2 linked regions of the Homo sapiens genome follow. The protein of the gene in region 1 interacts with the protein of each later gene in a pairwise test. Each region holds a gene or a part of one and is shown on either strand. Other genes may lie near its edges. The genes, in order: AKAP19 and PRKAR2B.

Region 1 (6,445 bases):
GATTTAACATCTTGTGTTTTTCTTCTCTCAGGGATCACAATCCAGTGTTGCTTGTTGCTCTATGCCTGAAAATAATGGCAACATATATTTTGTCTGGTTTTAAAACTGGTTTTGGCAAATGCACAAATCTGGCACTACTTTGTTAGGGTAAGAAAAAGCTGCTTTTGCAAAACAAAAGGTCTTAAAAAACAGAATATTCTGATGGTTCCACTGATGGTTCCACTCACAGCCTTTTATTTATCTGACACTCATTGAGTTCTCCAAGTAATTTTTTTCAGGTTAACCATGTCCAATTCCCTTAACCATCCCTCACAGTAAAAACTAGACACTATGAAAAATCATAACATGCTGATGATTAACAACCAAGACAGTCCCCATCTTCAGTTCAGGCTAGTAAACAAGACAGACACCACACATAACTTGTTTCCCTTTTAAAATTAACATCTCTGAAGTATGCAGCGTGAAGCAGGGCATACAGAACTAAAGGTAATTAAAAGCAGAAGACTGCCTTTCCTTTCTTACCCTCATATCACTCTTATTAGGGGTAGGAACAGATGTAGTATTATGAGAAACTGGGTAGAATTTATAGAATAATATATGGTGGTAGACCTGGCAAACATCACCTCCTCTGGACATCCTTAATTACAAACTATTAAAAAATGAATTAGATGCACGCAAGCTTTTGCCTTAAGATCAGTGGTTTCAGGCCAGGCACAGTGGCTCACGCCAGTAATCCAAGCACTTTGGGAGGCTGAGGTGGGCAGATCACTTGACCCCGGGAGTTCAAGACCAGCCTGGGCAAAATGGCAAAACCCTGTCTCTACAAAAACTTAGGTAGGCATGGTGACTTGTGCCTGCAGGCCAGCTACTCAGTGGGCTGAGGTGGAAGGATCACTTGAACCCAGGAGGTCCAGGCTACAGTGAGCCGTGATTGCATCCTTTACTCCAGACTGAGTTAACAGAGTAAGACCCTGTCTCAAAAAAAAAAAAAAAAAAAAAAAAGGTGTTTTCAGAAACAGATTTTATGAATTTTTAGAGCTATGTTTTTAGTCCCAAAACTAAGATACAATCAGGGACCATTAATCTCATTCATAGAGATTACCTGTGCTTCTTACACTCAGTCCTCTTTAAAATGAAGCTGTCTTGTATTGTTTTAGTTATCCTTAAGTCCCTTAAGAGGAGTTCATTCTGTGATAACACACACTTGGGAGGCTTAGAAGGCACATCACAAGCATTGTCATCTATTTATTGACCAAACATCAAACAAGGGTAGGAATGAGACATTTAGGAGGAAAAACCTTTAACCTTAATCTGAGCTTCTGTACAATTTCACAGGGAACAGTCAATAGGTGGCTTTGCTATATGTAACCTATATTGTTTAGACGTGGCACTAGAGTAAAGCCAACATTGTTTACTACTCTTTGAGTTGTAAATATGTGACCAGGGGATAAAGCCAGACTCTAACAGTAGTCCAAGATCTGTAGGTTCATGAGGTTTGGGGAGGAACAAAATTTTGATGTGCTTGTTTTGCTTGACAGTATAGATCAGGACTCAGCAAACATTTTTTGTAAAGGGTCAGATAGTACATATTTTAAGCTTTGTGGGCCACATGGTCTGTCACAGTTATTCAGTTCTGCTGTTGTAGTATGAACGCAGCCATGGACACATGTAAACACGTGAGCATGGCTGTACAAAAATAGGTAGCTGGAATTTGGCCCAATGGTTTGCTAGCCCTTGGTATAGATAAATCTAAGCTAGCAAAAATTGAATTGTTTTGGTATAGATAAATCTAAGCTAGCAAAAATTGAATTGTTTTCAGTTTTATAAAATATGCAAGATCTTGAAAAAAAGTTTTCCTATTTTGCAAGTTGCCATTTTTATTGAGTGATTATCTTTTTCTTCTACTGATAAGATAAAGCTGTTTGTTTTTACCTCAGATTTCTTCCATGTGACCAAAGTGATGAAAGGATTTTTACATGCCACTCAATCATACACTATTTTGCATTCTGTAACTTCAAAATGAAACCTACCTTCTCTTGACAGGTAAACACTACACGTGAAGAGTGGTGAAAGGGAACATTGATTACTGAAGTGCCCTGGAGAGGGAAAGCACTGGTCAACATCACATGGACAAATTTCATTGTTTTCTAAAGATGGCCTGGAAGTAGTCTTTGCCACTGCTTCCTCCACAAACAGCTCTTCATAACATGGGCTGCATGAAATCAAAGCAAACTTTCCCATTTCCTACCATATATGAAGGTGAGAAGCAGCATGAGAGTGAAGAACCCTTTATGCCAGAAGAGAGATGTCTACCTAGGATGGCTTCTCCAGTTAATGTCAAAGAGGAAGTGAAGGAACCTCCAGGGACCAATACTGTGATCTTGGAATATGCACACCGCCTGTCTCAGGATATCTTGTGTGATGCCTTGCAGCAATGGGCATGCAATAACATCAAGTACCATGACATTCCATACATTGAGAGTGAGGGGCCTTGAGGCTGTAGGATGACAACACTTTGACTGTGGAGGTGCTAGTTTGAATAAATGTGACAAAAGCAAAAACTGGTGTGAAAAAGTACAAATAACTATCTGGATTTAAAAATGTGTCTACGATAATGTCACTATTATAAGAACAACTAGGATGAAATGCATTTTAAGTACTTCTATGTTAACAGCAATTTCTGTTTAGTCTTAGATTTTAGTCATCTGAAGGGCTGAACAGAGGTCCTGTGACACCCAATAATCAGCTGAATGTCACAGCACTTCTTCCTAAGTAATGGCATCACCAAAGAAAATGCTAAGGAATAAAAACTGCCCCAAATTCCAATGGTTGAAGTTTATCCTTTAAAATAACAATTTTTGTTTGTTTATACCCAAAAAAAGTCCAGATATGAAAAGGGCTTTTCTAAAATTTCTTGGCGAGGGAATGGCACTCAAATCATAGTGATTAACAGTAAGTCTTGTTTGTTTGTCAAGGATCTCTACTTCTTGACACAAATGAACCCTGTCTTTAATAAGATAAGATATTTATTTTTGTAGATGAGAAGTGTAACTACCACCTTGGACCTCAGGGCCCTAACTAATTACAGCTGTTACTGGACGACTCAGACTTTGTGCCTAAAGCCATCTTAGAGATAACAGTTTATAGAAGCCATGACATTAGTGTTTATTGCATTGAATTAAGCCCAGTGATATAACTATACAAGAAAACAAGTAGGGGTACCTTTTACAAAGAGCAATCCAATAAATCTTAAAAATAACAGAAACTTAGTCTGCAAGGTAGAAAGTTTCAGTTTTAATTCTGTATTAAGCTTTACTATCTCAGAGGTACAGAGGGCTGGAATATGGGCATTTATTTCCAGTTTTTTCTTGACTAGTAAGGCGGTCACCATTAAAATAGACCAGATAATGCATGAAGATTTACAGTTGTATTGCAAAACGGAAAAGATAAAACTGTCCTTTGAGGAGAGTACTCGTTTTCTGGGTTTTTGTTATTTTTTAGTGGTAACACAAGCCTATAGGGCATTTATAGCCACCTATTATACTGTTTCCATAAGCCTGGCTACCTTTTAGGGAAGCTATTTTTTCTCTTTCATTTTTACTGTCACAGCACATACACACACACCTTTTTGTTTTAAAGGATTAAGTACTGTTTGAAGATCAGTGGTAACAGAAAATTTGGGAGGGAGAAGAAGAAATTAAGACATGACTTGTTAGAAAATTAAGACTTCAGTTTCTAGAATTATCTTTTCATCAAGATTTGGTAGACATTGAGTTTAAATGGAAAGGAAATTATTTAAGCCTGTGTATGTTAGATCCACAATACACCATTGGTATTGAAATATAAAGGTTAAAAAAAAGGCTTATGACCTCTTTAATGAGATAAATATGTATTTGTCTTGTAAGCAGGCAGAAAATCTACCTCTAATTTTAACACTAATACTTTGAAACCCACAATCAAATAGAGTGAATTCTCCAAGTTACATAAGCAAGGAAAACATTATTTGAAATATGCCATGTTTTCGTTGCCTTTGGACACCTCATCATTCAACTCTAATTTTACCGAGTCCCGGGATTTGTACTGTCCCATTGTACTTGCAATCTACAATTTATATAATAGAAAAACAACCAAACCCATTCATACAAGGATCTGAAGTTATAAGGTTAAGGGCAGAAAGTTTCCCATAAGTATAAAACATTTCCAGGTCATGAAGAGTAGTTTAGGTTGAGTGACAAAAGCCTAGGTGTGGTTGTTTTTCATTCATTTTGCATCTCACACCAAGACATTTTTGCTGCAAGGTCATCTGCTGCTTAAAATGTACAATTAGGTATATAAAATAAGTACAATGGTGAAAACACAAAGCCAGGTAAAGCAGCATGCCCCACTAAACTTTTCAGTATACATAGGGACAGACAAGTGAGTTTTGGTTGTATCTAAATATTTTAATTTCAGGTTCCTTCTGTGCCCTGGGCCACTATTTCCCAGGGGTGTGACAGAGATGCCTGCCAGATCCATATCAACTAGAAGTCTGATTTCTGTTGCTGCCCTTCCTCAGCAACTATGGCAGTATACTTTTATCACCAAGCACCACTCCCTTGTCCCTGAATCACATTTTAATAGAGTACAATATCTTCTGTACAATATTTCTGAAACACTTATGTCTGAAATATATGCTGTATTGTATGTTAACCCATGACATATATGAACTACAAGGCTTGCATAATCAGTGAGCTAGTGGATAAATCAAGACAGGAGCAAATGGGAGAAAGATGAATAAACAAATGAAAAAAGATGAATAAATGAATAAGAGAGATGAATAAACAAATTTACATTACATGTGATAGTTATCATGGTATGGCCTTCATGACAAGATGGATGAGAATATCACTGATAGGATATTAGCCTTCTTTCATATCTTTATATTGAAATATGGGCTTTACTTCAATTTGAAGGTCTTTCATGAACAATAAAAGAGAGTAGAAGGACTGTCTGAGAAGGCAGGAGACATATAAAACAGATGACTGAAAGACTGACTAGCTCCTGGAAAGGGAAACATTTGGAACATCCAGAGTAAGGGCAAATGGGCTTCTACCAGCACAACAAAGAGCCTCCAGGTGGCAACATGGAAGCAGGTTATCAGAGAAAATAAATGTGCAAATTCCTTATTTACAATGACTCACTTAACCCCACAAACATGTTTCACTGCTGCCTTCCCCAGTTGTCGCTTATGTACTGTTGTTACCTTTCAGTTACATGCCTTTGATCCTAAAATTCTCTACTTTTGTTGCCTTATCAGTTCTTTGCAATCTGCCTGTGGTTATCAGCACTTAAAGCACAATTTTGAAGGGGAAAAAAATGATAATCACCTTAGTCCCAAAGAAATAATTTGTCAAACTGCCTTATTAGTATTAAAAACAGACACACTGAATGAAGTAGCATGATACGCATATATCCTACTCAGTATCATTGGCCTTTTATCAAATGGGGAAACTATACTTTTGTATTACATAGTTTTAGAAATCGAAAGTTAGAGACTCTTTATAAGTAATGTCAAGGAACAGTAATTTAAAAACAAAGTTCTAACAAATATATTGTTTGCTTAATCACAATGCCCTCAACTTGTATTTGAATAACTAAATAGGACATGTCTTCCTTGGAGCTGTGGGCATTAGTTCAGAAGCACTACCTGCATCTTAATTTTCAAAACTTAAGTTTTATTAGCAAATCCTCTTCTCTGTAAGACTTAGCTATGAAGTGGTATATTTTTTCCAAATATTTTTCTGAAAACATTTGTTGTTGTAACTGCACAATAAAAGTCCAGTTGCAATTAACTAGTGTGAGCTCTTATTTAACTGAAGCAAATGCTTTCTGACAGTGTGTACTTTGAATTTTTTAACAATATAAAAGACAACATTTTCTGCATTGTTAACAAATATAGAGAACAAAAATCCATTTATACAAATAATTTCTTGGATCATTCAGGTCCAATTTAGGACCTTTAAGAGTATAAATGTAAATGTATCCGATATCATGGCATCTTTATTCCAGATCTGTTACTGAATTATTTGAAAGAAAAATGCTTCACATAAAACAGATTAAGAACTGAGAAAACATAAAGCAATACCTTCTGGGCTGCCATTTCCTCATCTATGAGAAGGGTGCAGGACATGATCTTTAATGTCTTTTTCAGTTCCGTTGGCTTTTTATTCTTACAAACCTGAAGTTCACTTAGTTTCTAAAGAGTATGGGATGAAGGAGAAACTATAACAAGTTACAAAAAATTTATTTTGTTTATAAACAAAAATTACAAACAAAAAATTATAAATTTTGTTTGTTAATTTATAAACTTACCTTTAAAATTAAACAAAAATTACAAACAAAAAACAAAATCATAAATTTTGTTTACTTTGTTAATTTATAAACTTACCTTTAGTTTAAAAATTAT
Region 2 (2,930 bases), on another chromosome or scaffold:
CAAAGGTCATCTCATCCTTTATAACGTTTTTTGAGAGGAAAAATTCTATCAGTATCTTTAAAGATGCTTTGGGAAGGGAAAGAACACAGCGTTTTTAAATTTTACATTTCAATAAAATCCGAAGTCTCTTGCTTCATGCCGTTTCACTTGAAGAATTTTTAAGCTTGTTTGTTTTATGGACGGAGTCTCGCTCTGTCACCAGGCTGGAGTGCAGTGGCACAATCTCGGCTCACTCCAACTTCTGCCTCCCAGGTTCAAGCGATTCTCCTGCGTCAGCCTCCTGAGTAGCTGGGACTACAGGCACATGCCACCACGCCCAGCTAATTTTTGTATTTTTAATAGAGACGGGGTTTCACTATATTGGCCAGGATGGTCTCGATCTCTTGACCTCGTGATCCTCCTGCCTCAGCCTCCCAAAGTCCTGGGATTACAGGCATGAGCCATGGTGCCGGCCTTTTAAAGCATTTTAAATGGCATTTAGCCAGAGTTTATAATACTAATCCTAATGGTAACACATATACATTCACCTAAGTTGTGTCACAGGTAACGTGTATGTTAAAATATCTGCACTAAGCCCTAGTACATATGGATATGTAGAAAACAATACACACACACATACATACACACACACACACACACACACACACACCTTTATTTAAAATAAGGGAAAGCACCGTCACTCTTGGGGAAAAAGTCCTCACCCCTTTCCTTAGCCACGCATGATACACGAGAGGCTCTGTCCTTGAATGAATGGTCAACAGAGAATTCTCACATAGTAAGGAGTGTTGATTAATAATTAAATAATGACATCCACAAGTCAAACTTGAGCTGTTTTAATCAGATAATTTTACACATAAATTCCTAGTTAGCCAGATTGATTTGGTTATTCTAAATGGCCAAATAAATCTGCAACACACCACAATTATTTCTCCCACACATGATGAATAGCTAATAATTTTAAAAACCTATTGCCATACAGAACCATACTTTCTTACTATGTTATGCCCTGGGGGTTCGCTTCCACATGCCACATTGCTATCATGCTTTTCAATGAATTATGCATTATGCACGTCAGAAAACTTTAAAGAAACAAGCAAAAAAGTATGAAAAACAATAATTCATGTATTTTATTATAAAAGTGTGCTTTATTGTAAGGAAAATTTAAATATAACCAACAATACTGAAAATAATGTACGTGGCATTTATAGCCTTGGTCAAAGTTCTTTATTAAACAGGCGTTTGCTGTTCCATGAATAGTTAACAATTAGTTTATGCAACAAAATAGATAACTTGAAAAAGTGAGTAAGAATACAGAATGATGAACCAGGAATCTGGAGTTCTTTTGTGTTTTTTCTTGTTTAACAGACATGGCTTTTAAAATAAAATCTGAAATATAAAACAAGTCATCTTCATGTAGAGAGCTCTCTTTTCCTACAAGAAGGTTTTGCAAAAATGTTAAACAGTGTTCTAAAAATGTGGCTGAAGTTATACTTTACATACTTTAACTTCTTATATATACATTATCCAATTAACATTCTAACCACATTTTCATATACAAGTGGGACCATAAACATTCTCTAGTAAGACTACACTAGCACAGAGTAATTTTACCCATGTATATATATTCATTTGAAACCTGTTTCCCAAAATGAAATCACTCATTTAAAAGCAAACAACTGGTTAGAATTAATGTCTCTAGACACTGGGTCATGGGGCCTAGAAATCATGTAAGAGTATATTGCTTTGGTTGAATATAATTAAATTCATCTTATGTGGCAGCATACTGAGCATATCAATGAACAATGAAAATCTAGTACATCTGAGTTCTTTCTGCACTAATTTCAACTATGAGTCTACATTAAAGCAATGGCAAGGCCTAATGGTATATATGGTAAGGTCAGAAATTCATTTTGTCTTTATATAGGGTTATGCTCATAAAAATTTGTTTCTATTCCTCTAGAGGATGTTTTTAAGAATTAAAAAAACCAAACAAACCCATATTGGCTGCTGATCAATGAGATTGTGGGTTGGCAACCATCCTAAGAAAGAACGGAAACCCAAGGGAACAGATGTCTACATAGGACTGTATTATGCAGGCCTAGTGAAGAACAAAGAAATAAACTGTGGGCATGCTGATAAGGATCCCACATTATTTTTGGGATAGGAGAGATTTTTTAGGTGTAAAATCTTAAAGAATACAAAAAATGTCGGATCTTAAGTTTAAATCACTTTTTAAAAAAACAAAACTTTGTGACATTAAATGTCAAGATCAAATTTTTAAAGACATAGAATACAGAGAATTGCAAAATAAAAAAAAGCAGATATATGCTTGATGAGGGAAAAATGCATTAATGATCTCTCATCTAAAACACTGTTTTCCTTATTATCATAATGACTAAATTGCCTGTCCATAAAACCACTGGAATATGTATGTTACTGACATTATGCCAACAAAGTCAAAATGTACTTTATTGCAAAAATATAAAAAGTTTTAAAACTGCATATGATATTTTATACCATTTCACCAATAGGCCAAGGCCAGCACATAACTTATCAAGCTAGAAAACTTTAAAACAAAAATGATTAAAATTTTACTGTGTTTAATGAGTTATAAAAAAAAGTGATGCCATGCTGTGTAGCATGTTTAATTGCCAAGTGCCCTCTTACATGGGGATAGTCACTAATATGATTATCAGTCTGAATAAGTAAAACACATATAGCCTATGATAACATCCTTTAATTATCTTCTTAAACACAGATACTTTCTATATATTACAATCATTTTAATAAACCTTTCAGTCATAATTTTGTGGAGTACAAAGTCATTTTATCAGTATGTTGATTTTTTTATGAACTACTCTTTAGAAAGTGATGTTAAAGCCTATTGACTATTAAATCACTACTGTTTATTGATACGTTGTAAATGTAAA

What was found.
Region 2: the proteins of AKAP19 (region 1) and PRKAR2B interact in binary tests that used the Homo sapiens proteins (3 or more experiments, as listed by UniProt).

What each region holds. Positions count from the first base shown.
Region 1 is NC_000002.12:190,197,654-190,204,098, forward strand, and holds the end of AKAP19 (small membrane A-kinase anchor protein), read left to right. Parts: exon of another isoform or gene 1-2,043; 5' UTR 2,044-2,207; coding exon 2,208-2,495; 3' UTR 2,496-5,831; downstream 5,832-6,445.
Region 2 is NC_000007.14:107,159,699-107,162,628, reverse strand, and holds the end of PRKAR2B (cAMP-dependent protein kinase type II-beta regulatory subunit), read right to left. Parts: 3' UTR 818-2,930; downstream 1-817. UniProt on the Homo sapiens protein: Regulatory subunit of the cAMP-dependent protein kinases involved in cAMP signaling in cells. Type II regulatory chains mediate membrane association by binding to anchoring proteins, including the MAP2 kinase.